Regions from separate parts of the Homo sapiens genome. Here all the other regions are linked to region 1. Evidence: fine-mapped expression QTL. A gene starts in region 1. Each other region holds a variant in brackets. All regions are shown on one strand. Distances are between the middles of the regions.

The links. PIP is the estimated chance that this variant, and not a neighbour inherited with it, causes the effect.
Region 2: its variant is the best candidate, but not a certain one, in a credible set for the expression of RNF144A in blood mononuclear cells (TOPMed, PIP 0.88).
Region 3: its variant is the best candidate, but not a certain one, in a credible set for the expression of RNF144A in fibroblasts (GTEx, PIP 0.83).
Region 4: its variant is the best candidate, but not a certain one, in a credible set for the expression of RNF144A in sigmoid colon (GTEx, PIP 0.74).
Region 5: its variant is the best candidate, but not a certain one, in a credible set for the expression of RNF144A in subcutaneous fat (GTEx, PIP 0.84).
Region 6: its variant is the best candidate, but not a certain one, in a credible set for the expression of RNF144A in liver (GTEx, PIP 0.56).
Region 7: its variant is the best candidate, but not a certain one, in a credible set for the expression of RNF144A in cerebellum (GTEx, PIP 0.57).

What each region holds. Positions count from the first base shown.
Region 1 is chr2:6,915,775-6,919,841 of GRCh38, forward strand. It overlaps RNF144A (ring finger protein 144A), which reads left to right and starts at 1,638. Exons shown (of 9, transcript NM_014746.6): 1 at 1,638-1,848. GRASLND (glycosaminoglycan regulatory associated long non-coding RNA) reads right to left here and starts at 2,908. Exons shown (of 5, transcript NR_033997.1): 1 at 2,628-2,908; 2 at 1,076-1,450; 3 at 49-193. RefSeq lists a silencer at 1,478-1,967.
Region 2 is chr2:7,058,777-7,062,843 of GRCh38, forward strand. LOC101929452 (a long non-coding RNA gene) reads right to left here. Exons shown (of 3, transcript NR_110252.1): 3 at 3,951-4,067. It also overlaps a transcript of RNF144A not described here. Among named protein-coding and RNA genes, the nearest start is that of GRASLND, 140 kb to the left of the region's middle. The variant G/A (reference allele first, on the strand shown) is at 1,543.
Region 3 is chr2:6,991,858-6,995,924 of GRCh38, forward strand. The region is part of intron 2 of RNF144A (ring finger protein 144A); the gene reads left to right. Among named protein-coding and RNA genes, the nearest start is that of GRASLND, 75 kb to the left of the region's middle. The variant G/A (reference allele first, on the strand shown) is at 1,716.
Region 4 is chr2:7,013,963-7,018,029 of GRCh38, forward strand. RNF144A (ring finger protein 144A) reads left to right here. Exons shown (of 9, transcript NM_014746.6): 4 at 492-596; 5 at 750-810. Among named protein-coding and RNA genes, the nearest start is that of GRASLND, 97 kb to the left of the region's middle. RefSeq lists an enhancer at 3,206-3,705. The variant G/A (reference allele first, on the strand shown) is at 1,771.
Region 5 is chr2:7,021,152-7,025,218 of GRCh38, forward strand. It overlaps RNF144A (ring finger protein 144A), which reads left to right. Exons shown (of 9, transcript NM_014746.6): 7 at 3,218-3,365. Among named protein-coding and RNA genes, the nearest start is that of GRASLND, 100 kb to the left of the region's middle. The variant A/G (reference allele first, on the strand shown) is at 1,597.
Region 6 is chr2:6,949,873-6,953,939 of GRCh38, forward strand. The region is part of intron 2 of RNF144A (ring finger protein 144A); the gene reads left to right. Among named protein-coding and RNA genes, the nearest start is that of GRASLND, 33 kb to the left of the region's middle. The variant A/G (reference allele first, on the strand shown) is at 1,720.
Region 7 is chr2:6,975,619-6,979,685 of GRCh38, forward strand. The region is part of intron 2 of RNF144A (ring finger protein 144A); the gene reads left to right. Among named protein-coding and RNA genes, the nearest start is that of GRASLND, 59 kb to the left of the region's middle. The variant T/C (reference allele first, on the strand shown) is at 1,714.

The sequences.
Region 1 (4,067 bases):
TTATTGTGGGGAACACAGCACAACGTCTGTGCATTTGCAGTCACCCACCTGTGCATCCCCTGAATCCTTCATTCATAAGTAGTACTCAACCAGGAACTTCTTTGGTATCCCAGCTCGGACACGGGAGGTGTGAATATATTTTTCATAAAGCCCAGGCCTTTATGCAGAACGATTTTCATCCTCTAGTGAGAGGCTGAAGTAACAAAGTGCTGTTGTTAAGATTCTTCCCATTGTGCATTTTTCTTGAATAATGACATTTCTAAAAAGAATCTGAAACTGAGGCATTAGAAGGCAAGTGCTCGTTCATATATTTGAAGAGGTCAAATATTTACCAGAATAACTTCTCAATACAGAGGGGACAGCTTTATTTTATTTTACTATAAAGATGTATGTGTAGCAGAAGACAAATTATGCAGAGCTTTGAGTTAGTTAAGAATCATCTGATTTAATTCTTTGGAGAAATGAGACAAATTGTAGCTAAGGACTATGGAGTTGTTTTAGTTTGCCAGTTATATTTAATTTGACTATTTCTTTATTTATTGAGAGACAAAGTCTCACTCTGCTGCCCAGGCTGGAGTGCAGTGATGCAAACACAGCTCACTTCAGCCTTGACCTCCTGGGCTCAAGCAGTCCTCCTGCCTTGGCCTCCCAAAGTGCTGGGCTTACAGGTGTAAGCCATGGCACTTGGCCTATTTGACTTGTTTAATCCCTCCGAAGAACTCATACATACTATTGCCACCTCATTTTCCACGTAAGAAAATGGAAGCACGAAGACCTTAATAACTTGCTTAATGGCTAGTAGGTGGTAGAGCTTGAATTTAGACCACACAGTGTGGAGGGTATGCTATTAAGGAAAAACGATGTTCTAGTGGGGTTTCCATTTAATATTGCAGAAAAAAGAATCTATATATTTAAGAAGGTGTTATTTCATGCACACTCGTAGGTTTTGTTCATATATGCACATCTGACGTATAATTTAACATTTGTGTAACTTCAAGCTTCTATGGGGAGTGGCAGAAGATGCAGGAATTCTATTAATACCTTCGCAGATCTTAGATTCCAACAAGCTGGATACCTTAAGAAAAATAAAGAAATTGCTGTGCTTGGATCCCAGATGTCCATTCCACCTTTTGGGACCTCCCGGGGGGCCCTCTTTTCTTCATCCTTCAAGACAAGGATAGTGGGGTGAACAGACAGACTTTCCTTGCGAGGGTTGGCTCAGGAAGGCTCTGGGCTCATCTCACAGCCGCCCCAGCGAGGGTCGGGGAGGCAGGTGCTGGCTCCGGTGGGGTCTGCGGCAGAGCAGGACTGGAGCCCAGGGCGCAGCTGCACAGCTCAACGCCGGTTCGCGCCCTGGTTTACAGCGTTGGGCTGGGTCACCCCTTCTTTCCTAGCTTGCTGCTGTGTGTTCCCTCGGTGTAGGAATCAGGGGAGTGTCTTCTGGAGGCCACTAAAGCAGGAATAGCATTTTCATGTTAGCGTGCACGGGCGGTCTCCGCAGCCCCTCCTCGTGCCGGAGCCTGTCCTGGGGCCTGCGGGGCGGCTCCGGGCCTCGGGCCGGCGCAGGCGGGCGGCAGGGGGCGCTGTGCGGCTCGGCGCGGGGGCGGGGCCGGGGCCGAGCCTCCCGCGTGCCCGGCCTCTGTGCGCGCTCGCGCCCCGCCCGCGCAGCCGCTTCTCCCCGCGCGGGCTCTCGGCAGGCGGGAGGCGGCAGGGCTGGCATTGCAGTGCGGGCCGTGCGGGCTGCGCGGGCGCGGGGAGGCGCGGGCGGCAAACTGCGGGCACCCGGCACCCCGCAGCCAGTACCGGGCGGAGGCGTCAGAGCCGCGCACCGCGGACGAGCAGGCCCAGGTAGAGTGACGCGCGTCCCCTTTGTGTCCGCATCGCCCGGGCCGGCCGCGGAGCGGGGAGGGCGGGACGCGGCGCTGCGCGGCCGGCCTTGGGGCTCGGGGCTTGCGGCCGCGCCTGCCCCGCTGGGTCCTGCCCCGGCGCCCGGTGGCAGCGGGCGGGGGGCAGCGTCCCGGGCGGGGACTCGCGGGCTCCGTTCAGAGGACGCCCGCCCTGCCCTGCCCGTGTCCCTGACCTCGTCCCTGCTCTGCTCCTGCCCTGCCCTGCCTCTCGCAGGCGGCGCCCGCGCCCCAGGGCAGTGGGCGCTTAGGGACCTGGCGTCCCCCTGCCTGCCCTGCGCGGTCGCGGGTCTGCGCTGCGGCGCGGGACAGGGCGCCCCGGGCCAGGGTCCCGCGGGCGAGCTGGCGGCGGGGGCTTTCAAGGTTCGCGGCCCCGCCCGCAGACCCTGGGGCTGGAGCCTCGGCCCCAAGAGGAGGTCTGGGAAAGGACGACGCGTCCGGGGCATCGCCACCGGCGGGGAAGGTCGGAACTGGCCAAGAGGATGCCCCGCACATCCCCTGCGCGCGGGGTCCGCGGCTGCTACTGCCCCTGGTCCCCACCGCGAGCCCTTTCCCGGGGAATGAGCCGCCGCCCGAGCCCCGGAGTTCCCTGCGGGTCTTACCCACCCCAGCCTCCGGCCGCCGACCCCAAGCCCCCTGCACTGTGCTTGGCTCCCAGCTGTTTGGTCGCTTATGCCATCCTGGAGGCTTCCTGGTCCTGGGGTGAAGGGGTGACTTCTTTACCCTAATGGTCTTCGTAGGCAGGTCTCAGGATGTCCACTCCAAAGTTCGTGGTCTTTTTTCTAGAGAATAATAATTTTTAAAATCCATTGAACTGGCCGGGCGCGGTGGCTCACGCCTGTAATCCCAGCACTTTGGGAGGCTGAGGCGGGCGGATCACGAGGTCAGGAGATCGAGACCACGGTGAAACCCCCTCTCTACTAAAAATACAAAAAATTAGCCGGGCGCAGTGGCGGGCGCCTGTAGTCCCAGCTACTCGGGAGGCTGAGGCAGGAGAATGGCGTGAACCCGGAAGGCGGAGCTTGCAGTGAGCGGAGATCGCGCCACAGCACTCCCGCCTGGGCGACAGAACGAGACTCCGTCTCAAAAAAAAAAAAAAAAAAAAAAAAAAATCCATTGAACAAACATCCTGCGCTGCCTCCTGCAGGATCAAGGCTGGGGTAACAGAGGAGTGAGGTAAGGCCCCAGGGAACTATCCCCAGTGGATCCCTGCTGCCCTGCGGTGAGAGGGGGTCTAGCTCCTGCACTAAGAGCCTGGGAAGAAAACACTTCCCGTAATGGGGCCTGGGAGATGGAAGGAGGACATGCCCCAGTGAATGGGGCTGGGGTTGAGAGTTGAGCCTGGCAGATAAGATGGATTTGTAAATGAAATGCCAGGTAGAAAGTAAGTTGGTGTAGACGCCTGTGGAGCTGTGGGAGCCCCCAGGAGGGAAGGGAGGGAGTCAGGGTGTCCCTGCAAAGGGAGTCCCCTTTGCAAGGGAGGGGGTGTCTGAGTCAAAGCTTGCAGGTGGGGCAGGTCAGAGGTGGCAGGAAGGGCCTCTGTCCAGAGAGAGCTGCTCCAGCGCAGGAAGGGGGAGGGACAAGGTGTGTGACACCGTGAACTTTCCCAGGGGATTCACCCAGTGGCTCCAAAGGAGACAACAGCCTTTTTTATTGTATTCTCTTCTCCGGTACTGAGATTAGGGAACCTTGTTTTTTGCACTTTTCTAATGCCTTTTACATTTTTGTTTTTATTTTTAAAGCGTGCAAAGGAAATGTGACTAGAGGGGTCAGAAGAGGATAAATCATGAAATCTTTGAATTCTAGGCCAAGACTTTGGGTTTGACTCTGTGTCAGTGGGAGCCATTGATGGTTTTGGAGGAGGAGGGTGATCTGAGCCCTGCTTTAGAGTGATTTCCGCGGTGTTGCGTGGAAGGGAAGGCATGGTGTGGTGTGCCTTACTGTGGCTTCCGAGTCAGACCCCCACTGGCTGTGGGCTTCCACCTGCATCAGGCATCAAAGGCTGTGGATGGATTGAGGACCTCATGAGAAAATGGGTGCAAATAACCCAATTTTAATGGGATGGAAATTTTCCAGACCCAGTGCAATTTGATTTTTGCAGTTTGTGTTTTTAAAGAGCTCCCGATTCTAATGTCAGCAACTCTGGAAGAGGAACTAATGAAG
Region 2 (4,067 bases), 140 kb after region 1:
GACTCTATAGGTTTCTTCTCCTATTTTTGTCCTTGCAATGTTTTTGTTAAACAGTTTTTTTTTCTACAGAGCACCCCACATTTTGCATTTTGCCGACCGTATACCTGTATGCTGTGATATGCTCCCCTTCTCCTGCATCACCTGTATGTATGCAGGTCATGGTAGTTACCTGGATGTATGTATAGCGGGTCTATCTAGAGGGGCATTTAAAGAACTTGGAGTGGGAGCTTTTTGACATGGATTGAGAGAGGGTGAGGTGAAAAACCTGTTTAAAAAAATACTGTGGATGGGCTGGGCACCGTGGCTCACACCTGTAATCCCAGCACTTTGGGAGGCTGAGGCGGGCAGATCATGAGGTCAAGAGATCGAGACCATCCTGGCTAACACAGTGTAACCCCATCTCTACTAAAAATACAAAAAATTAGCCAGGCATGGTGGCGGGTGCCTGTAGTCCCAGCTACTTGGGAGGCTGAGGCAGGAGTATGGCATGAACCTGGGAGGTGGAGCTTCAGTGAGCTGAGATCATGCCACTGCACTCCAGCCTGGGTGACAGAGCGAGACTCCGCCTCAAAAAAAAATAAATGCTACTTTGGATGTATCAGAATAATACTGTAAAGGATTAACCAAAGGCTTCAGCTTTCAGTACGTCCTGTTCTGTGCCATGCCCCGTGTTCCCCTCCCACCCACTTCCTGAGTCAGGCAGCAAGGGCATCTATGCTCATGTTGTCTGGTAGGGTTATTACATCAAACATACAGAGAGAAACAAAAGAGTCAAGTGTCAGCTTTCATGTTTTAGAAGAGACTTTTGATGAAGATGCAGAGTGACCAGTATAGAGAGAACCTTGGGGACCAGCTGGAGGCAGATAGCTCAAGCCACACCAGAAGGTCCAGGTGCCAGCAACCAGAGTCCAGCAGTTAAGGAGAAATCTCAATAAACTCTAATGATGACAGATGCTGAGCACTGAGAACCCAGCACTTTCCTTCTCAGTGCTTTGGTGCTGGAGAACTTACACCAACTCAGAGGAGAAAGGGTGAGAGAGAATCACTAAACCAGCTGAAAATCCTTGATTTGCTTGCTTAATATGAATTACTTAAAATTTAATTTTCTTCTCTTGAGTAAAAGTGGCGCTGCAGGTAGAAAAATAAAGTTATGTTGTTGTGGACATCTGAACCCACATAAGGGCTTGTTTGTGTAGCTGTTTATACTTACAGTCTTAAAATGCTATCATAGGAAAATAGCACATTCAAATTAATATTCCCCATCATGTCAGTGTCTTGAAACGTTATCCATGTTCTGGAAGTTTCAGCCATCAGAATGAATCTTCTAGAGTGAATCTACTGCTAAACATAGTTCAACTAATTGTGTCTCCTCTTTCTTCTTCATCTCCTCCTCTCACTTCTCTTCTTTGTTTCTCTTCTTTCTGCCCCTTCTCTTGGCACTTTCCTCAAAACATTTGAAAGTTGAAATAAGACATGATCCTGTTTTGTTTTTTTTTTTCTTCCTAATCTAAGGTTTCCAGATGGATTAGGCTGGCATTCTGC[G/A]TTCCCAGAAATATTTCCAGAGCTGAGAGGGGCAGGAAAGAGAGCACATGTGCTGTTCCAAGCTGTCTGTTGCCTCTGTGTGGCCATCTGTCATTTTCTTCAGGCACACGATGACCTGCAGGGCTGGTTCTTGCTTTTGTTACCTTCAAATCCTGAAGGATTCAGACAGACTAACATTCCAATGCCCTTTATAACCTTTCCCCCTGGCAAAACTTCAGCCAGAATAAACCAAAAATGAAATGGAGAGAAAGATCACTGCATCTTTCTGGATCCCCAAATTTCCATTCCAGATTTAGGGCTGATGTTCCCAGCTCGTTGTCCCTAACCACATCGTTGTCACCCTTGGTTTCCCAGACCACACCAGAGATGCGTAGCATTCCCTTACTCTCTTCTCACCTGCAAGAATTTATAACCTCTTCTGAGACCCACTCAGATGCCCCATCTTACATAGAGCCTTTCCTGTGCAGTCATCCACCTGACCCCATCGCCCCTGCAACCCCTGCAGTCTTTTGTTTTTCTTATGCTCTAGTAGCATGTGGTCAGATCAGCATGCCGGCACTTGTGTTGAATTGCAAATACCTATGTATTCCTTTTTGGCATGTAGTTTCCTTGAGAGGAGATGGGACCTGAGTCTAATAGTTTGTTTTTCCTAGTTTCTAGTAGGTGGCACCAAATGATTTCTAGAAGGCTGGATGGAACCTATGGAATCAAAGGGAAATAAAGCAACATTTTGATGCCCTGGGCTCTACTATGGTAGTGGCCCAAGTGTTTCTACTCTGCTCACCCCTGACATTTATGTGAGCTGTCCATGGATATAAAAAAGCTGCTATGATTTCAGACCTGAGCTTCACCATCAGGTCCAAATTAATTCCCGACGTCCAGGCAAAAGAGGAACATGGCACTCTGACAACTCACCCCAAACTCATTTGTGTAAATATTTTTACTGCACAGTTTTATGTCTCCGAGTTGGTTTCTGACTTCCAATGTCAGCACAGAGCTCTCATGGGAGCCTAGCATTCCCACCAGGCTTCAGCTGAATATTTATGAATGTTCCATAGTAGATATTTTCTATTGTTCCTGGAAGACTTTTATTATTTAGAGAGCAATTAATCATATTCTGAGGGAAAATGGAGGAGCCAAGTCACATGGCAAGGGTGATGATGTTTTTTTTAATTCCAAGATGAGCAAAATAATCTCAGCTAAGGCTTTCTCAAAGATTTGCTTATTTCCCGTGTCTATCTGCACACATTTCTACGGGCCATGTTTCCATCACAAGCAGCCAGCTTAAAAATAGGGCTTAGGCAAGTCTTCTGCTGTCAGAATTGCACACCACTCTTTAGGGCCTATGATTTAGGCTGAATGCTGAGGCCTAGAACTACATCTTACATTTACTTTGGTAACGATGGCATTGCTTTTTAAATTACTCAACACAAGAATGAGAAATAGTTTTTAGAGGATAATATAAGGAGGGATGAATACTTTGTTGAGTGCTTATTATGTTCTTTAGATATATTATATGATAGACATTACCTATAATATATTGTATGTATTGTAAATAATATATGAGAGCATTTTTCCCATTTTACTCTGATACACAGAAAAGAGGTAAGAGATGATGTGTGAGTTTGTTATTGATAAGTAACTCATCATTCCAAAATCCAGTTGCTTAAAACACTGAGCATTTGTTATTGTCCCTGAGTTGAGTGGTGACCTGGGCAGTTCTAATCTCAGCAGAGATAACTCAGCCACCTGTGACCAGCTCGGGGTGGGCTGGGAACCTGGTTCTGCTGATTGAGGCTGGGCGCTCACTGTGTCTTGAGCTTTGGCTGGAACAATTGGACTAATTTGGCTCTGTTTCATGCAGTTTCTAATTAGGTTTGGCAGGAATTGTCTTCAGTGCAGCCTGAGCAGAGGTACGAGAAAGAGCAGAAAAATGCATGGTCTCTTGAGGTCTGGGCTTGAAACTTACATCTTAATTCTGCTGAGTTTTGTGTTGGTGGTGGTCGTGTTTTTGTTTTTGCTTTTTGCCAAAGGAAATCTCAAGACTGGTACAGAGTTAAAAATGAAGTACATTCTTCCTCTAGCTGGGAGTTCCTGCAAAGACCCATTGCAAAGGTTATGAATAACGGAGGTCATGTAATCAAGTACAGATGTGTTTTGAGAAATAGTGCTGGGTGCTAAAAAAAAAAAAAAAAAAAAGAAAGAAATAGAAAGAGGGCCTTCAATATCAATAGAGAAAGGTCACAAAAGACATTGCATTATAGTAGCAGGGACATTACAGCCCCAAGGTAAAATAAATTGATAATAGACAGTGAAGGAAGAGAGCCAGATAAAGTTTGCTCACCACTGATACTGGAGCAGGATGGACCAGAGGAAAGAAAGCAGAGACGTTTATCCAGCTTCTCTGAGTCCCTGATAATGTGGAAGCAGAGTCTCTCCCCTGCCCAGGGAACTGGCTGATTGATCCTTAATCAGCTCAAATATTGAACTTCTGGTTCCTCTGCATGTTGGGATGCTCACATTAC
Region 3 (4,067 bases), 76 kb after region 1:
ATGGAATAGCTGCTGTGACCACTGTCCAGAAGGCTAGAACATAGTTCCTACCCTTGAATAATGTATCGTCAAGTTGGGGAGGTAAATTCACACATATGTCAGACTTTGAGGGTCACACTTACCCAGAAAGACTGGTGACATGGTAGACCTCCAAAGCCACACTTACCCAGAAGAAATGGGAGTTACTATGAGAGTGTAGGCCAGGGCCTTGTAGACAGGACAGCTGAGTTTTGGTATTGTTGAAGAACGGTGCACTTGGTGGGCTTCGACCCACACAGCCTTGAGTGAGATAGACTTGGTTGGAAATGCTGTTGAGTGGAATGATACTGACCAGTGGTTCTTGGGCTTCATTGTGCATCACAGTCCCTGCCAGGCTCACGGAAACAGATCACTGTGCCGCCCCACCCACCTCCCCAGAGTTTCTGTTTTAATGAGTCGGGGTTGGAGCCCAACCAGTTACATTCCAGCAAGTTCTCAGGTGATGCTGATGCTGGTGTTTAGAGAGCGCTGCTTGCGAAGCCTGGTGGACCACACACAGCAGAGACCCAGAGACGGGAGACAGCGGGGAGACGTGAGAAATCAGAGGAGACATCACACAGCACCAGGACTGATGCTGGGTGTGAAGGGTTTGTAGGGTGTGGAGAACGGGTAAGGAAGGAAAAGGGAGTTAGGCTGCAGAGGAAACATGAGAGTGTCCCAGGCAACTGGAGGAGAGCAGGGACTTGCTGGAGGAAGGCATGAAAGTAAGAGGTGGATGATGACTGGCTGGCAGCTGCCTACCTTTCCAAGGTTTGCTTTGAAGGAGTAAAGGTGGGAAGAATAGGGGCCTACAGAGGTCCGTAGCCCTGGGGCTCAGAGATGGGATAGTTTTGGTCAAATAACCACCTTGGACCTTGCAGGAATCTGCTGAATCTCTCTACAGTGGACTATTTTCTCTTCCAGCTCTCTCTTATCCTTGTGTCCACACCTCTTTCATCACAAGGCACAATCCTTTGCACGGTCTCAGTCATGCTTAATAAGTAAATTGCCTTATGCACATTTTGAATTGCTTAAATTGAATAATACTTATAATTGACCAGATGTTCCTAAAACAGTTTGCCATTTCATATGACTTGACATTCACATTAGGAAAACAAAGACTGTGCTTTCTTTTATTGTGCATTGTGATTCTCTTAGCATAATCTGATTGCAAGTTCGCAGCTGTTCGCTGTTTGCAAAATCATATTAAGGCCATCCTGTGTGTAGGGAAGGTCCATGATGGGTTTAGACAATATAGACCCCTTTTTTTTCTGTAAAATATATCCTGTTGTCACCATTTGAATCACGATTTTGAGCACAACTCAGAGACTGTGTATTCTGTTGGGGAAAGAATAGTGATGTGATTCCTGGAAATGGTGCTGTGACCTGCTTCAAATCCAGCTCATGGGGCTGGCGGGGGAAGTGGGAGGTGAGGGCCATGGGCTGACCTGTGCCCAGGGCAGGGGAAGCCACTGGGGGCCAGATAGAAATCATGGTCCAGGCAGAAAGGAAGTCAGACAGATGGAACCCTGTACGCTGTGCCAGGAGGTCACAACAGAGAGGCAGTAAACAGGAAAAGGAGCCCAGATCTGAAGCTGGAAGGAGAGAGAATTGTCTTGGGAACAAGCACGATGGGGCAGGGCAGAGGTCCAGCACAGAGGCTATAACTGGCTTGTGGGGCAGGGAACTGTTCACGC[G/A]GGGTGGAGGTGGGGATTCCAGGGCCCTCTGTGGAGCGGTTAAGCTCTGCCTCTGGGTAATGCGTTCTCGGGTGATGTCCAGGCTGGGAGCATAGTGCATGGCTGTCGATAAGGGAGGAGGCTTTAGGAGGTTTTGATGTTTGATTCTTCTAAAAATTTTCTCCATTGGATTGAACTTCCGAAATGACTAATTTCACCATATGATATCTCTTCCCAACAGCTTGTTTTATCCATTTTGTCTATGTAGGTAAAAGTCTAAGCTTGTTAACCTGACATATCATAATGACTTCTACTTACCAAGCTCCTAGTATCTATATATTAGATATATTATTCTAATATATTGCTTCTTACTTCTCACTCACTCTTCCCAAGTCTACATGAGTGGTGATGGTGATACAGGCTTTACAGAGGGAAAAAACAAAACAACAAAAACAAAAATTGAGTTCACAGAAGTTAAATTTAAGTTATGTGATATCTTCAACATCAGCATAACCAAGTGGCCAAAAAAAAGGAATTTGAAGCCAGGTCTGCTTGACTGCAAAGCGTGAACTCTTTACCCTGCAACTTCCCCAACAGCCCGACAGAACTTGTACCCAGTGCTTTTTCAACATTGTCAAAAAACAAGCTCTCCCCAGATCTCCAGGCCAGAGCAGCCAATTGCCAGCTACTGCCCCCTTGAAACTTTTCCAGCCCTGACTGATTTCTGCAGCCTGCCCCAAGCCTCAGTGCCTGGGGTGAAGGTTTGTGATCCAATTTAGGGCCAGCTAACATTTTAAAATATAATTATCATGTTGTCCAGTGAACTTTAAGAGATGCTACTTAAAAAAATTATTAAGTATTAAAGCAGAAAAAAGATACAGAGAAATCAAAAGAAAAAAGTCACAGCCTGTCAGCCTAGGACCCAGAAAACCCCATGTAGAGATTGAAAATGATGACAGTCATAAGCATAAGCATAAAATTCAAGGTGTAGAGAAATGATCCAAATGAATATGACCCTGGGGAGGACGCCTTGATGTCTGTACCCCCTGCAGCCCCAGAGAGCCGTGTGACGCCTCCAATTATCTCACTCCTCAGGACCCACCAGCTTGAGGTCAAATCATGATGCTTGTTTAAACTATCTTGAAAGTGCTAGCCAGTCCAGAGGAATTTGTGTCAAAGAGTCCTTTTGTAACAGGGAAGACACATGTATTTTAGACTGAGTGACTTGCAGGCACCAGCTGCCCTTGGAAGAGGCCCCTCCAGCTGCGGCCCACTCCCGCCCCAGACGCTGAAGGCCTGCGCAGATTCCCAGTGCAGATCCCGGGCGGTCTTCAGTCACCCCCTCAGTTGCTTGAGCTCTGGTAGTCAGGGTCTCCTCCTCGAATCTGGCTCATTTCTGCCTCTCATGTCCTTCGTCATGTGTCACTGGGCCCCATCTGCTGGGTGAGCTTTCAGGATCCTGCAGGTGCTTCCTTCTGGGCCAGACGTGTCTTCTCCCTCCTGGTAGAATTCTCCCTCCATGTGGAATTCACCAGGTGGGTGAATTCTCCCTTCTCCTTCCATGTGGAATTCACCAGGTGGGTTTTCCTAACTAAATATTAGCGCAGTGACACCCAGTGAGGTGTCAGTCGTAAAACTTGAGAAAGGGATGATGTAATTTTTTTTTTTTTTAAGTTAGGACAGCTCCTTGACCCTGGGAATAAGCTACTCAAATGACAGTAAGTCCCAAACCTACCTGTGGCACACAGCGGCATCGTCAGATTCCCTGTCTGCTAAGCTGTGGCTGAAGGAGACATCACAGGGGAAGGGGAGTGTATTTGTTAGGGTCCTCTAGAGGGACAGAACTAATAAGATAGATGTTTATATAAAGGGGAGTTTGTTAGGTAGTATTGACTCACACGATCACGACGTGAGGTCCCACAGTAGGCCATCTGCAAGCTGAGGAGCAAGGAAGCCAGTCCAAGTCCCAAAATCTCAGAGGTAGGGAACTGACAGTACAGCCCTCAGTCTGTGGTCGAAGGGCCAGGAGTCCCAAAGCTGAAGAACTTGGAGTCCGATGTTCGAGGGCAGAAAGCCCAGCACAGGAGAACGACAGAGGCCAGAAGATTCAGCCAGTCCAGTCTTTCCATGTTTTTCTGCCTGCTTTTTATTCTGGCTTTGCTGGCAGCTGATTAGATGGCGCCTACCCTGGCTGAGGGTGGGTCGGCCTCTCCCAGTCCACTGACTCAAATGGTAATCTCCTTTGGCAGTACCCTCACAGTCACACCAGGAACAATACTTTGCATCCTTCAATCCAATCAAGTTGGCACTCAGTGTTAACCACCACAGGGAGGAAGGGATTTTCCTGAGCACTTGCTGTGTGCGGCCGACCCT
Region 4 (4,067 bases), 98 kb after region 1:
ACTATTTGTGTAAGTTGGCAACTTCCTCCTTTGCTGACTCAGTTTTCACATATGAAAAATGGAACAGTCATACCTTTCTTGTAAAAATGCTCTAAGGCTTCAGTGAAAGACTGAGAGATAAAATATTTAATGCAGTGCCTGCATCTTATAGGCATTTGAGAAATATTACCTCCCAGCCTCCCTTGCTGCCTTTCATCTTGCTTTTAGAATTCTTGGCTCTTGTGTTTGCTGAGGTTTTGTGCCGGGATCTAACCCATAGCCTTAGCTTTGTGATTGAGCATACAGTCCCTGGCACAGAATGGGTACCCCATAAATAGTTGTTGAATGAATAAAACCTCAAAACCTCAAATGTGTTGGTTGCTGTGGACTACACAGTGAAAATATTAAACTGTAATGGAATGATGTGCCTGGTCCTTTTTTTAATGCATCATGGTTTCTTCAGCATTAAGGAGGTAAAGATGTTTATAGACACTTCTCTGTTTTTCTTTCAGTGCCTGAAACAGTATGTTGAGCTCTTGATCAAAGAAGGATTAGAAACCGCAATTAGCTGCCCAGATGCTGCCTGCCCTAAACAGGGCCACCTACAGGAGAACGAGGCATGTGCAATTGAACAGACTGGGCTGTTTGATGTGCACAGGCGTGCACTGCTGAACTTGTCAGAATAACGTGGGTTTTGTTTGGGTGTGCGTTGCATTATATTCTAGCCCTCAGCTTGTTATCATTCCTGTTTGCATTTTTTTTTCCCTTAGATTGAGTGCATGGTTGCAGCTGAAATTATGCAAAGATATAAAAAGCTACAATTTGAAAGAGGTAGGTGCCTGGTATATCTGCCGGTTATGATTCCTGTAATGTGTGAATGTGGATAATTTTGTGGGGAGTTCTTTTGGTAGATATGGTTATACAGCATTTGATAGGAGTTAAAAAGTTGATGTAAAATAAACTTCTGAAATTAAACTGACATTCTGGATTCTCTGAACAGCTCACAGTTTGAAGACCTTGTCTAGTGATCTATTTGGTAGCAGGAAGAATTTATGGAACACAATTTGTTTATAAGGATTGAGGCTCCTGGGGGAGGCTTAAAGTTGATGGCTCTCTTGAGGTATTATATTTCAGCCAGCTTAAGGCTGAGTTTGAGGGCTAAACTCTTGGACTGGCCCAGAAGTTAAAAGATGCAGAGTCATGGAGGGAAGTCGTGAGGGTAGGCATAGCAGAAATTACAGTAACCCCCGTCCTAACAACAGTCCGATGGTAGGTGTCCTGTCTGCGCTTACTCACCACTGGACACAGACCTAGATAGTAGGTGGTGAATGAATAATCAAGTCCCTTATCCCAGTAAGTGTCACAACAACTCTGCAAAGCTAATTTGTCATTATCTAATAAACGGATCCCCAGAGAGGCTAACTGACTTGCCCTGATTTCTAAATATAGTGGGTGCTTTGGGACCACATCCCATGACCCTTCATCGTGAGCCCTCCACTGGGCCCTGAATAGTCCTTCTGGCTGGAGCAGGCCTGATGCAGACCCAGGGGTCCTCTGGGAGAGCAGTGTGGCAGGTGCACACAGAGCAGAACATGATTCTCAGGATAATATTGCAAAGCATTAAGCCATGTGGAATGTCCAGGAGAGGTCTTTAGCTCTGCTCTCTGAAATACTCCGGGGTCATACAATGAAACTGTAAAGAGTCTGTGGACTCTCTTTGGCTTTGTTTTCATATCTATTCTGGGCCCCAGGCTTGTCTGGTAAAGAGCAGAGTGACAGATGTGTGCAGGC[G/A]ACACTCCATATGCAGAACATCATTGTGTGGACCTTGCAGGCGGATTCTGAGTTTGGATTGCTGGCATCTGCTCTCCCTCTCCCTGCACTGATTCTCGGGTTCTTGACCTGAGCAGGGTCTCACCACTGAGACACAGCCCTGGAGGGTGGGCTTACATGAAAACATGGCCGGATGGGGAGTGGACGGCAGAGGAGACCAGAGGACAATATCCAGAGACTCCCAGTTTAGCTGCATGCAGAGACCTGTTGTTTGTATATTTTTGCTTTCTAAAAGAAATGCTAGAGATAGCTGGGCCCAGTGGCATGTACCTATAGTCTCAACTACTCAGGAGTTCAAGTCCAGCCTGGGCAACATATTGAGACCCCGTCTCTAAAAAAAAAAAAAAAAAAGAAAGAAAAAGAAAAAAATATGTAGCCCACTTAAAAAAAAACTCAAACAGCATTTTTCATGGCATTGACATTTGTTTTCAAGAGTGTGTTTATTAAAGTGTCGTATATCATTTGCTTTGGGGCAGTTTATAGCTTTAATATAATGCCATTTGGTACAAAAGTCAGTACGTAGGGCAATAAAATTGATTAATTTAGACTTCTGAGACTTTCAGGCTCTTCTGAGAATATTTTCCAGAGAGAATCTTGACAGAAACTGGCTGTTGTTTGCGTTACAAGAATATGAACTTTCTATGACATTGAATTTAATTTAAAAATGCAGCTGGGTACATTTTTCAACCTAATAATTTTAACTGTTATTTCTTTAGTACTTTGGCTTAGTCAGAAAATCTTTTTTCCTTTTGCATAAACATGAAGCCAACTTGGCTTCTGTTAAAAAAAAAAAATCTCTCAAGCCTCTCCCTTTAAAGCATTTTACTAACATTATGTTCAAAGTTTTTTTTTTTTTAAGTATTCAGACTTCATACTATAAAAGACCTGTCTAGATAAAACGTTAGAATGTCAGAGCTAAAATATAGTTATGGATTATAGCCAGCACCTTGAAAGAGTTTGGAGACAAGATCAGAAAGCAAATTTTGACTGTCTCTATGGCTCTAAAATCTAGTCAAGTAGAGGACGCCCTGGAAGAAAACTGAGACAGTTCAATGATTTTCTGAAAACATTGAGTTACCAGAAAGTTCTATGGTTAGGTCATGTTGCGCACACTGTCTGCACTTAGTCTTAGAATGTCTCCTCTGATATAACAGCCTTGGTTTTAGCGTCAATGTCTTCCCCTTCTGGAGCTCTGGGGCAAGCAGGAAGCCAGGGAAGGGGGCCAGGAAGCTGAGTTTTCATTCTGAACACCTCCTCACAACTGGCTCACTCCAGAGTCTGGGTAGGGACAGATTCTTGAGCGAGGGGGTGTGGATGCCTCTTGCTGCGTGGACCCCTCTCTCATGCTACACTCGACGCCCGTGGCCCTCTGAGACCCAGCGGTGCTGTGCTAAGGGCGTTGCTGTGCACCTGCCTCTATCTGGAGGCTCAGCCCTCCCAGAGACAGGACTGTGGGTCCTCATGCCTTCGTCCCATGCCAGCCCAGTGCCTGGCCAAGTGAATGCTGATGTCAGATGTCAACCGTGTATTGTTTTTTTTTTTGTTCTTTGTTTTTTTTTTTTAAAGTAAAGCTCAGAGAGATTAAATAATACGATGGGTTATCCACCTGTAATCAGGCCTGACTAGAGCCGACTCCTGAAAATGTTGCCATCTCACAGCAGGATCAAACCCACCATCCCAGCCCTGCACCAGGCACCAGCCCGCCGGGCAGGGTAGTAAGTGCAGGGATGAGAGGGGATGCTGGGTGCATCGTTCTCTGTCATGTACTTCTGAAAGGAAACTGTTTTAAAAGGAAAGCCACCTTTTTAAAAAGTTTTATGCATTTTTAAGCAGGGAGTTCTTAAGAGACCTGCTTCATTAATCTGCCATGAATACGCCTCTGGGAGAGAAGAGTTAACATTAGTTTCCTCTAGTGTGCCAAAAAGCATATCATTTGCTTTGTTTGAAAATATGTCTCATACACACACGTGTGTAGATTGGGGAGGATAATGCAGAATGTTAATAGACATCTACGCCTCAGCCTGGGGCCATGTTCACAGGGTGTGACATGCCCCGGCAGCACAGGAAGGACATTTGCAGTCTGCAGTCAGAGCGGCCGTTTGTCCCTGACCTTTTCGATAGGGAATCTCTCCATGTGAGGACAGGCAGTGCCGTGTCACAGCTATATGAGGACAAAACTAATAAGATTTAAATCGTTCCCATGGAAACCTTAGCCAGGTCTCCCCTGTGTGCTATCCTGGGGGGCCTTTTGTGATGGG
Region 5 (4,067 bases), 110 kb after region 1:
GCTGTTTGCCCAGGAGAATGCTGCCGCACCACGCTCTGTACTTTGACATTTCGTAGGTTGATGCATAGGAAATTCATCATATCCAGGTCTTTTTCTCCTACAAAATCTACAAGGTCACGTGGTTCTGCTGGACACTTGCCCCTGCTCCTGTTGAGTCCAGGATCCTCATAGAGGAGCTGCCACTCTACCCACCACCCTCCCCAGGGTGTGCTCACCAGCTGCTCCCTGTGCGCCCCTTTTCCCATTCCACCGTCCCCAGCTCCTGTTCCTTTCCGTGTGACCCCTGTGCCCTGTTCTAGCCCCCGACCCTCTCAGGGTCCCTGCCACACACCCCTGGTCTCCTTCCGGGCGAACCTCTCTTCCCGTGTCTGGAGTGCCCTGCTCTGCCCTCCTCCTTTCCCTGGGGGCTCCTGCCACACTTCAGGTGGGGATCACATCCCTTTGTCAAGCTTCATGGTTCCGAGGACAGGGTTGGGGCCTCCACCCTCTGTGTTCCCCCTGAGATTCTCTGCATTGATTACAACCCTGGACATATTGGATTTGAGTTCTTGCGTTGACAAGGCCGATTCTGCCATCAGGATGAGCTCCTGACACACAGGGCCTGGGCCTTTCTGAGCAGCCTGCATCAGGCAGGCAGCTGCAAGCACGAACCACTTGTACTTATACTTCACGTGTACTTGGCATCTTAGGGGCTTCAAAACTTTAGATGGAGGCTGGTGAGTGTTTGGAGCCTGATGACTTAGTTTTCTTTATCTGTGACATTCTAGTCTCATTTAAATTATTGTCCAAAGATGATCTAAATCAAAATTCAGAAATCTCATTTTGTGGAAATTTTTAAATCAGAAGATGTCACATAAAAACTGGAATTTCTGGCTTCTCTGGGAAATCCGAATCCTAAGCCTCTCCGAGGCTGCCTCCCCATGCTGGCAGCCAGCGTAGCAGAGCCCCAGCTCTTGCTGGAGGCGCCTCCTGGGCCAAAGCCCCACAGTCCTCACTACTCCTTGTCCCCTGGAACTGAGGCTGCCTGTCAGCTGCCATTTATAACTGAGAAGACACTAAGCTATTTTTTGTATTGGAGGGTTTGTTGTTGTTGTTGTTTTTGGTTAAATCTTCTCCTCAACCATGTTTTTATCCAGCCCCTGACCACTTCACTCATTAGCATCACCTGCGCACCTCTTCAAGCTGCTGGGCCACGTGTAGATTGTGATTAAACTGTCCAAACTCCTCTCTGCTTTTATAATTTGAGTTTACAGTAAATGTTGTTAGTAATAATTTTAAATCCAATTCAGATACTAAGAAATATTTGAAAACCATTGTCTATTCCATGCAAAATTTTATGCATAGCACAGTACACCAGAACTTTCATATTTTAACGGTTTTCATTTTGAAATGTCTCCCCAGGAGACACTGTACACGCTGTTCCTGCCGTTTCTTCCAAAATCAGCTTGTGAGTCACATGAGAAAATTGGTTTCTTAGCTTTAAGGTCACACCTGGCTTTCAAACCAAAACAATGTTATCTAACCTAAAACCCAACCTTGATCACCAGATCCGGTGTCTCATGACTTCCAGCTTTTTGCAAAATCAAAGTCATTCTC[A/G]GAAGGAGGCCAGGCCTAAGGTTTACTCGGAGCTGGCTCTGTGCTGGATCCCTCTGGAGACATTTGCACATATGCTATCTCGTTTGCTCCTTGCAACAACCTTAGTTCATTCTTTATCACATTCTGCATGACCAGGTTGGTCTGCAGTTTGCTTTTAAATTGGAAGCATTTGAGCTAGTGACAGTTGTGTTATCTTTCAGTAACAGTTGTTAATAATAACTACTGTTTATTGAGTGCCTGGTACTTATGTGCTGGATTTTGTGCTTAACATGTTAACATGTGCAACCTCTGTAATCCTCACAACCGTCTGTAGAGATCGATGCTATTAGCCTTATTCATCTGGTTTGCAGATGAGACACGTAACACATAAATCGCACAGCTAGGATCTGTCTGTCTCAAGACTCTGTGCTCCTAATTAGGAGGACATACTGCTTCTCTCATTATTTCTTACTCTGTTGCCTTCTACTAATGGACCAAACAGTCACGTTCAGTTGGAATGTGCACCCCAAGTGGAGGATTGTTCACTGCCAATCATCAGACAGCTCCTACTAAAGTGAAACTACATTTAATGCTCATATTGACTGGAAGCTTGTGAGAGATCCTTCAGCCAGAATGCACTCAAAAAGCCAGAATTTGCTCAACTGCCGTGAATATATACCCATACATGTGTTAAATTCTGAAAAAGCTGCCCCGAGAAGGAGGGATGCATTTTCTCCTGCTGATGTTTGTTTGATATAGTGAGTTCCAACAATATAGCAAATGGACCCCCATAATCAGTGATAACTCCTCTTAACAGTTTATCATTTATTCCTTCAGATGCTTTTCTGAATATTCTTACCCATCTTTTAAAAATTAACAGCATGGGGTGAGTCATACCTAATGTCTGTGTTATCTTTCTTTAGCAACATTGAACTACTGCTACCCTTTATCAAGCACTTCATAAAAGCTGCACCCTGCGCTGTGCTCTTGGCACACGGAATCTTTTCTCATGGTCACACTGATGAGAAAACTAGGGCTTGGAGGGTTGCTCCACAGCTGGTTTGTAGCAGACCCAGCTCTGACCTCAGCTTAAAGCCCTTCTTGCTAACCCTGCAGACCTAGCCAACTTCTGAGGAAAACAATTCTGTAAGAAGAGCCAGGTGGATCTATCTCAAGTAAACAGTGTGTGTTTGTGTGTGTGTATTTGCAACATTTATTTATTTTTCTTATAACAGCAAAGTACATAAAATTTATATCAACCCTTTGGAAAGTAGACAGCTCTGTGAATAAGGATACAATATTTGACCTTAACACTATGATTCAGATACCTCCGTTATAATAAGCCTTTCGCTGTATTTTCTTTTGTTTGTATACATATATCTCTAAATTTAGATATGTGTTGATGTTGCTGTAATTTTTTAAAAATTTTTCCTAACTCAAAGTGGCTGATTCACAGTGTTCTGGTTAATTTTTTTTTTCTGGAGTTTCTGTTTCTTTGTTTTTTGGTTTTTGTTTTGTTTTTTCATTTAATACCAAGAAAACTCAGTCTGTGAAGTGGAGCCGATGCTTCCAGCATAGCCAGTGCTCCTGGGTCTCCCGTGGGATCCGTTTGTGCAGAGTCCTCACGGCGTTTCTCCCACAGTGCTGCTTTCAAAATGGAAGAAGATGACGCGCCCATCAAGCGCTGCCCCAAGTGCAAAGTCTACATCGAGCGAGACGAAGGCTGCGCGCAGATGATGTGCAAGAACTGCAAGCACGCCTTCTGCTGGTACTGCCTGGAGTCTCTGGACGTGAGTACGGCCTTCAGCTTCACCTTGCGGCATTTAGCTTTGAGGTTTAGATTTGGAATGAGAAAAATAGACCAGCTGTTTCCTAAAGAGCTTGGTGCCTACTCCTGTGTAACAGTGAAGCAACACCGTTTGGTGTTTCTCCTGGGTTTGTGAAAACATTAACTCATGAGCGCCATGGGGACAGAAGCCTTTGTGACTCGTATAGTCCTGGGGTCTAAACACTTCATGCAGGTTCAGGATCCAGCCTGGGATTTAAAGGGGTTTTAGCATCTTAGGTTTTGTCTAAGCGGGGACTGTCATTGTCAGTTTGGGCTGCTGTGACATAATATCATAGATGAGGCAGGTTAAATGACAGACATTTATTCCTCATGGTTCTGGGGGCTGGAAATCCAAAATCAGGGTACACCAGATTTGGCTCCGGGGTTCCTGATCAGGACTCCTTCCTGGTGTTCAGGATAGTGAGGACAGACAGAAGTGGGGGCTGGGGGGCTGTTGGGCTTGGGGCCAGTCTTAAGACTTCATTGACACTCACATCATCTACAGGGCGGGAAAACGTGCAAGCCCTTTGCTCTCTGGCAGAATGGAAGTTCTGGTCTCATACGGCAGCCTTCTCCTAAGTATGCTCTGCTTCAGTGTTTCTCAAACACACCCTACCGTGTGTGCCTGCAAGAGCCATGTCCCTGACGGGAGGGCACAATCTCC
Region 6 (4,067 bases), 34 kb after region 1:
GAGAGTGTATTAAGTAAAAATTTAAATTCTGTACCTTCTTTCCCAGAGAAAACCACTATCATCATCACCATTATTATTATTATTATTTTTTTATTTACCCCTCTAGAAAATTTAGGAGGCATAAAAAGATACCCGCTTTTTAGTCAGAACAGGATTCTGCCATATTACTGTTTTAAGCAGTGCGTTTAAAGAGCTGTATTCAGTAGAATTTGACACATGAAAAACTTCATTATGTCAGTTTTGAAGCATAATTAGCAAATATCCTGAACCTGCCTTTCAAACGAGAGCATCGTTGATGTGAATGGTGCTCCCATATATTGCTGCCCTGGCATCCCACCTTTCCCCTGAGCTACCTACTAATCTTTCCTTGCTATTTTAAGCGTTCTTTATTGCTAAACCTTATATCCTTTTACTCATTAACAATGATATTGTGTTATAGGTAGACTTGCTCACTCAGTGTTCTCTAAGATTTAACCGCGTTGTTTTGTGTAACTGCATTTATTCATTTCATGTTGTGTAATATTTGATAATGTTGGCGTCGATTTCTTCATGCATTCTCCTGCCATTGGATGTTTGGGTTATTTTCAATCTTTACTGTCACAAAACAGTCTGCTGTTAGTATTCTTGGTTCCTAAATACCTGGTCCATAAGTGCAATTTTTTTCTTGATTATATACCAAGGAAGAGCACAGCTGGGCCTGAAAAATAAAAGCTAATTAATGATTAAGTTTGCAAGAAAATGTTGTAATGATTTCTGAAGTGTGATCATACTAATTCACATTGCCATCAGCAGTGAATAAGAGTTTCCTTTAAAATTTATGCCTTTCTTATCCTAACACTTGGCATTAGGTGTCTTAATTTTTGCCAAATTAATGGTAAGATGAATTTAAGCTACCAGTAATATTGAGCTACTTTCCCCATGTTTAATCACCATCTGTTTTGTCCACTGTAAAATGACTGCTCGTATTTTTGGTCTAGTTTTTTTATTGGATTGTATTTTTCTTATTGATTTGAACTCATTTTCCTGTATTCTGAAGACTGTTGTTTGTTTCAAGTGTTAAAAATATTACCTCCCAGTTTGTGTCATCCATTTTCACTTTCTGTAAGTTATCTTTTTAATGACTAGAAGTTCTTGATTTTAACATGCTGACTATATCAGCCTTGCCCATTTATAATTAGGGCCTTATATTTAATATATTCTTCTGTATTCTGAGGTCATAAGTCACTCTCTTATATTTAATAGTTTTAAAAGTATTTAGAATTAACTTTTGTGTGTGATGGAGGAATCCAATGTGGTTTTTATTCATAAGGAAAAATAATACGTAGTAACATTTATTGAATGGCCCTTTGTCTCTATTTATCTGAAATGCACACTCTGTTATGTGTCATGTTTCCATGTATTCATGTTTTTTTTTTTTTCTCTGTCTCCTTTATTAACTTGGTTAGGTTGCCCACCTCTGTGTCAATGCAGCCTGCTCTTAATGACTCCAGCTCTCTAGTAAGTTTTGGCACTTGGCTTCCAACCTTTTCCCTCTTATTTGGTGGTGTTTGGCTATACCTGGTCCTCTGCCCTCTATAGAGATTTTAGAGTTAGTTTATGAACTAATAGCACCATTAACAACAGCAGCAAACCCTTGTTGGGAAGTTGCTTGGATTGCATTAACTCTGTAGGTCAATTTAGAAAGAATTGGCATATTCTGGGATATTGACTTTCTCATCC[A/G]TGAACATCGTATCACTATCCATGTATTTATGTCTGAAATTTCTATGTTTTCTACTTTTCTCTAGATACACCTTACTTATCTTTTGTTGAATGTGCTCCTAGTACCTTAGTTTCTTTTATACCCTTGGAAATGGAATCTTTGCTGGAATGTATAAATGTAATTACCTTTTTAATATTGATCTTGCATCTAGTCACTTTACCAAACCTTTGGTATTCTTAATATTTTGTCTATAGATTCTTGTACATATACTGTATTTTTAAATAATGAAATTACTGTTTATTCATTTTCAATTCTTATAGTTTCTCTTTCTTGTGATTGCTTTCTTTTTTGCATTAGAGCCCAAGGTACAATATTGAATTGAAGTAATAGCAGACATCCTTTCCTCCAGCCTGAGTTTTATAGGGAATGTTCTAATTTAATTAAAAATACGTTTGCCGCCATATTTTTCTAAATGTCATTAGGTTAAGGAAATTACCTTGTGTTTCTGATTTGTCGACTTTTATTTTATGTTTTTAATCATAAATACATGTTGAATTTTATCAAAGGCCTGTTCTGCATCTATTAAGAGGACCATATGGTTCTCACTGTTTTTTTATGTTCTGTTACGCTTACAATATATTCCAATGTTAAATTCTCTTATACTTCTAAGAGAAATCTAGCTTGTTTAAATACACATCTGACACACAGCTGGATTCTATTTGCCCATATTTTGTTTTAAATTTTTGCTTCTTTACTCATGAGAGAGTTTGGCCTATATTTTTTCTTTCCTTAACTGCTTTTGTCTGATTGAAGAGGGAGGGTTTTTTTTTTTTCCTGTTTTTCCCAATTTACCAGAAGATTTTGTGTACGATTTATATTATCTGCTCTTGAAATTTTGGTAGTACTCAACTGAAAACGAGACCTAGTGATTTCATTGTAGGAAGATTTCTAATCAATTTTTTTCAAAGTTTGTAAAATTATTTGCACTCATTTCTTCTTGAGTCAGTTTTGTTAAGCTTTATGTATATATATATGTTATATATAAAAAAGTATGTTAACATATATTTATATATATAACTTAAGAAAAAATTTAAAAATGAGCAAATAGAATCCAGATGTGTATTTCTATTTTATATATACATATACACACACATATATATGTTTTAGAGCTGGAGTCTTACTATGGTATGCAGGTTAAGTTGTATTCTTTTAGGCATGTGTTCATAATTCCCTGCTTTTCAATTTAATTCGCATAAAATTATTCACAGATTTTTAAATCTCTTCTATTATTTATTACAATACAATTGTTCTTTTTTCTTCCTCAACCAACCTGCCAGATTGTGCATTTATTATGATTTTCAAAGAAAAACACTCTTGACTTTGTTGACCCTCTGTATTGTAACTTTACTTTGTGTTTTATTTATTTTTGTTTTTGTTTGTTACAGGTCTTCTTTTGCTCTCTTTGATTTTGGGCTATAGTTGCTTTTCTTACTTTTTCAGCTAAAAACAGCTCAATAATTTTTAGCCCTCTTTTTAAAATATAAGCATTTAAGATTATGAATTTTCTTTTCAGGGCTGGACGCAGTGGCTCACACCGGTAATCCCAGCACTTTGGGAGGCTGAAGCCGGTGGATCACCTGAGGTCAGGAGCTTGAGACCAGCCTGGCCAACATGGTGAAACTCCGTGTCTTCTAAAAAAATACAAAAATTAGAGCGGCATGGTGGCGGGCGCCTGTAATCCCAGCTACTCGGGAGGCTGAGGCAGGAGAATTGCTTGAACCCAGGAGGTGGAGGTTGCAGTGAGCCAAGATCGTGCCACTGCATTGCAGTCTGGGAAACAAGAGCAAAACTGCGTCTCAAAAAAAATTTTCTTCTCAGTACTGCTTTAATGGCATCTCATAAGTTTTCTTAAATAATATTCTCATTAATGTTTAGTTCTACATATTTTTAAAATTACATATTTTTCTATAACCCATGAGTTACTGATAAGTCTTTCAAAATTTTCCAACGTGTGGGATCTTTTTATTATCAATATCTATCTTAATTGCATTGAGGTCAGAACACATGGTCTGCTGAGTTGTTCTTTATGTCCCAGTATAATGTCAGCTTTTGTGAATGTTCTGTGTCTTTTTGAGAAAACTGTGAATTCCCAGTTTATTGGTTCTGGGTTTTTACAATCTATTACATCAAGATTGTTTGCAGTACCTTTCATATTTTCTACATTTTCACTAGTTTTGCATGTTTGCCATTTTAAAGTCATATATAATGAGTTTTCTCAGTGCGTTGGTGTACTTGGCATTTTTCTCAGTAAGTATCATTTTTGCTTTATATATTTTGAAGTTATTTGTTGTATACAAACTTAAAATTT
Region 7 (4,067 bases), 60 kb after region 1:
TTAAGACCAGCCTGGGCAACAAGTTGAAAGCCCATCTCTGCAAAAAATGCAAAAATTAGTCAGGTGTGGTTGTGGCACAGGCCTGTGGTCCCAGCTACTTGGGAGGCTGAGGTGGGAGGATCACCTGAGCCCAGGAGGACAGTGCTGCAGTGAGCCAAGATTGCACCACAGCACTCTAGCCTGGGTGACAGAGCGAGACCCTGTCTCAAAAAATGAAAGAATCTTGGATATCCATGCAGTGTTTATGTGAATACAAATAAGTACACAAAGTTTATCGTAGGATATATGCTGTTCTATGCTTTGCTGTTTTCACTTAACACATTTTGCAGATCTTTCCATTTGAATGGATAGAAGGCTTTTTCATCCTTTCTTCAGCGGCACAGTATTCCATTGTGCAGACCTTCCATGGTTTAGTCCACAGCCTGCTACTTGAGTTATTCCCAGTCTTCTGGTATTACAAACAAGACCCCAGTGACTAACTTCCTCCACTGGGCACATGACTGGAAGTGGGATTACTAGGTCAGTGGGTACATGTAGTAAATCTTTGGTAGATATATTGACATTTTCCCCATTTCATGTGTTATATCATTTTGAACTCCAGCCAGTAAGGTGTGTGAGTAATGGTTGACCTACAGCCTCCCCCACAGGGTTTGCGAAATATTTGAATTTTTGCCAACTTGATAGTTGGGGAATGGCATCTTGATATAGTAAGAGTGAATTTCTCTTCTTATAATTGTGTTTGTTTGAGGGCCGTTTTTCTTTTCCTGTGAATTTTATCTCGTTCCTTGATCGTTTTTTATTCAATTGTTGCTCTTTTACTTCTCAATTTATAAAGTTATGTATGTATTAAGGAGAATAACTCTTTGGGATACATTTTGCAATGTTTTTCGTTTTGTTATTTATTGTAACTTTCTTTGGTTTGCAGAAGGTTTTGAAATTTATATATATATGAATTTCATATATATAAAACTATATAAATTTCATATATAATGATATATGTCATATATACATTTCATATATATAAATTTATTATATATACATTTCATATATAAACTTTATATATAATATGAATATTGCACAAAGAAAAACAGTTACTCCTCACTCTCATAAGAAATGATTTTGTGTGAGTATGTACTACCCTTTCCTTTGTCTGTTGTACCATCATAATGAACAGATGGGGTTTATGCTTACTTTTCACCTACCAAAATTATACCAAAAGGCTATTGGTTAATCCTGCAAAATGTCATTCTATAATACATATTCTTCTTTTTTTAAAAAAACTGGTCTGATACGCCTTTGAAAATATTATATTCATGCACTTGCAGCTTTTTAATATTACAGACAATGCTGTAATCCACATTTTCATGCCTGCAATTATTTGTTCAATGGATGAAATTCCCAGAAATTGGGCTTCTTGATCAAAGGATTAAAAAAATTTAAGTTCCTTGATAAATATTACGCATTGCCTCTCAAAAGTGTTAGTTCATTGTATGTTACCATTAGCCATGTTTATTGCTTTCTCTAAGACTATAACCAAGTTATTACAATTTTTTAAATGTTCAGTTGATTTTATAGGTGGAAAATAAGCCCTGTCGTTCTCCACATGAGTAAAGCAGGATGCAGAGAGCTTAGGAGATGTGCCAAGATCCCAGGGCTGGCAGGAGGCAGGCCCAGGGCTGGAAGCCAGGCCTCCTTGTTCCCAGGAAGGGAAAG[T/C]TGCGTATGCCTTTTGAGTTAATGACACGAAAGCACAGACAACTGGACATGGTTCTTTTGAACATCGTAACATCAATTCATTGGGATCAAATCAACACTGAGCATCAGTATTCAGTGTTTAATGCACATTTTAATTTCACTGCAGAGAGGATCGCACCTCATTACTAGCGGTTATTGAGTCACTACTCAGTAAATATTTACTTTCTACGTGTAGTACATTATACCAAATAGTTGATATTATATGGGCATAAAATGATCTCTGTTACTGGGAAACTTCTGGTGCAGGAGAAGCGGTAAACCTTTTATTGCTGTTACAGGAGCTTTCTCCCAGGCAGCGAGCTTTAGAGTGTCCATTAAACTTTACTGACCAATTTTTTATGGAGCACTTCCTCTATGCTTGCACTGTTATAAATTCTTGGGATAGAATAGTGAACCCAGCAAATAAAAACTACTGCCCTCATTGGGGTGTCTATTCTGGAGAGACAAAAAGAACATAAAGGAGAGAAATAAGTTACACAGTAGACAGTATTAAGCCTATTGTTTTAAGGAGAAAATGAAAGCATAGATGGTAGTGAGTGTCGGGGGGAGCTGTTGGGGAGTTTGCCTTTAAGATACATCACCCTGGAGTCACTGGAAGTTTCCATCTGGGAGACGTCTTGTGAAATAGTGTCCTTGGTGGGTATGTGGTCAGCTTGGGGAACCCATAGAACTGCATCACAGCCTCACTCCTCATCCTCAACAGGGGCTAGTAGACCAGGAGAGGAGAGGAGGTGTGGGCACCCTCGTGAGGTAAAGGTGTCTGTGGTCCTGCATAGCTCTGGAGGACGTGGACTTCTTTCTGGAATGACAGGAAGCTCCTAACAGGACTTTATGTGTCAGAGGCCTATGATGGCCTGTGAATGTGGAAAACATGGTTGGATATGGTGGGTTCTATTGTTTTTGGTGCTGTAATTCTATATTAATGATGCTCAAGTGACCAAGGACTTGTACTCTCTTAACAGCACATAGTCCCATTAGGCCCATTATCATTTCAACAAGATCCTTCCTGGGAACAGACTTCTAGACAGCCCATGTCTTTTCTTTGTGACTGGTGCCTCCAAGCTCAGGGACACCTTATAAAGGTTCCAGGGGTAAAAACCCAAGTTCGAACGTGGGGCTGGGAATAATTACTCCACACAGACTTGTGTTATTGTGGGTATTCCCAGCAGGAACGTTCCCCGCCTTGAAGACTCTTCCCAGGTTGCCGGGGTTTTCTTGGGAATAATTTGAAGTTGACATCTCTGTTTCCTTCCAGGAAAGGTTGCATCAGTTTATGTGATCATGTTCAAGTCCCTCGAGGTTGGACTCAGAACCAAGCTGAATGCTCAGGAAACAAGTAGGCTGGTTCTGCAGTCTGAGCCTGGACCCTGTCTGTTTGGAGGCTTTCCTTCTCTCTTTGTGAATATTCTCTTTAGAAGAGAGCTCTCTTTCTGCACCTGTGGGGATCATCACCACCATGTCAGAACTGAGTAAGTTCTGTGGTTTGTTTTTATAGCTAACAGAGTTTCCCATTGTTGTCCAGCAAAGGGATGGAGCACTGGATGGGTGAGGATTGGCATCCAGAAGAAAGGGTGGCATGAAGGGTCCACGTATCTCTGCCCAACTTCTGGGCTGCCTCTCTGTCTCATGAGCTCATCTGCACTTGGTGGTCTCTGCAGCCAGGGTCAGAAAGTAGAGAGACAGGAGCAGCCTTGTGTGTTTCCTGAGTGCCTATTGGAGTCTAAGTTCTAGAATAGTGGGCGAGGGGCTGGGATAGGGGCTCAGCCTTGTGGATCTGAGGGATGTTGGACAGAGATGTCTCTTCTGAATGAGTGGGAGGCGCTGCTGTGGGTTGACCCTGAGCCTGTGGTCTTCAGTCTTGGCCAAGGCTGTAGGGATCACGTGGACTTCCTCACAGGGAGGGTGGGAGATGCAGATGAGATGAGATATTTTTTTTCCTGGTTATTAGGACAGGCAGTCTCCAGCACTGGCTGTGAGGGAGGCAGAGGTGCCTTCTGTGTGATTATGATTGGGGAAGTTGAGCACTGGATTTATCTCTGCATCCTAGCCAACTAAATGGTCTGTCATTGCCATTGTTAAACCAAAGACCTGTTTAATACCTAGAAGACTCTGTGATGAAACAGACATTCTTCTCAGGTGTGAAAAGTTAAAAGAAATCATTAGCTTTTTTTTTTTTCCTGAGGGTGGCCTCTTTAGTATTTCGAAAGGTGAAACAATCAGATTAGCAATTACATCTTTGGTGGGGGACCAGAAGTTATTGTTTATGAATGAGCCTTCCAGGCTCCACAGAAGCCTCCAGGGTGATGTGTACATGA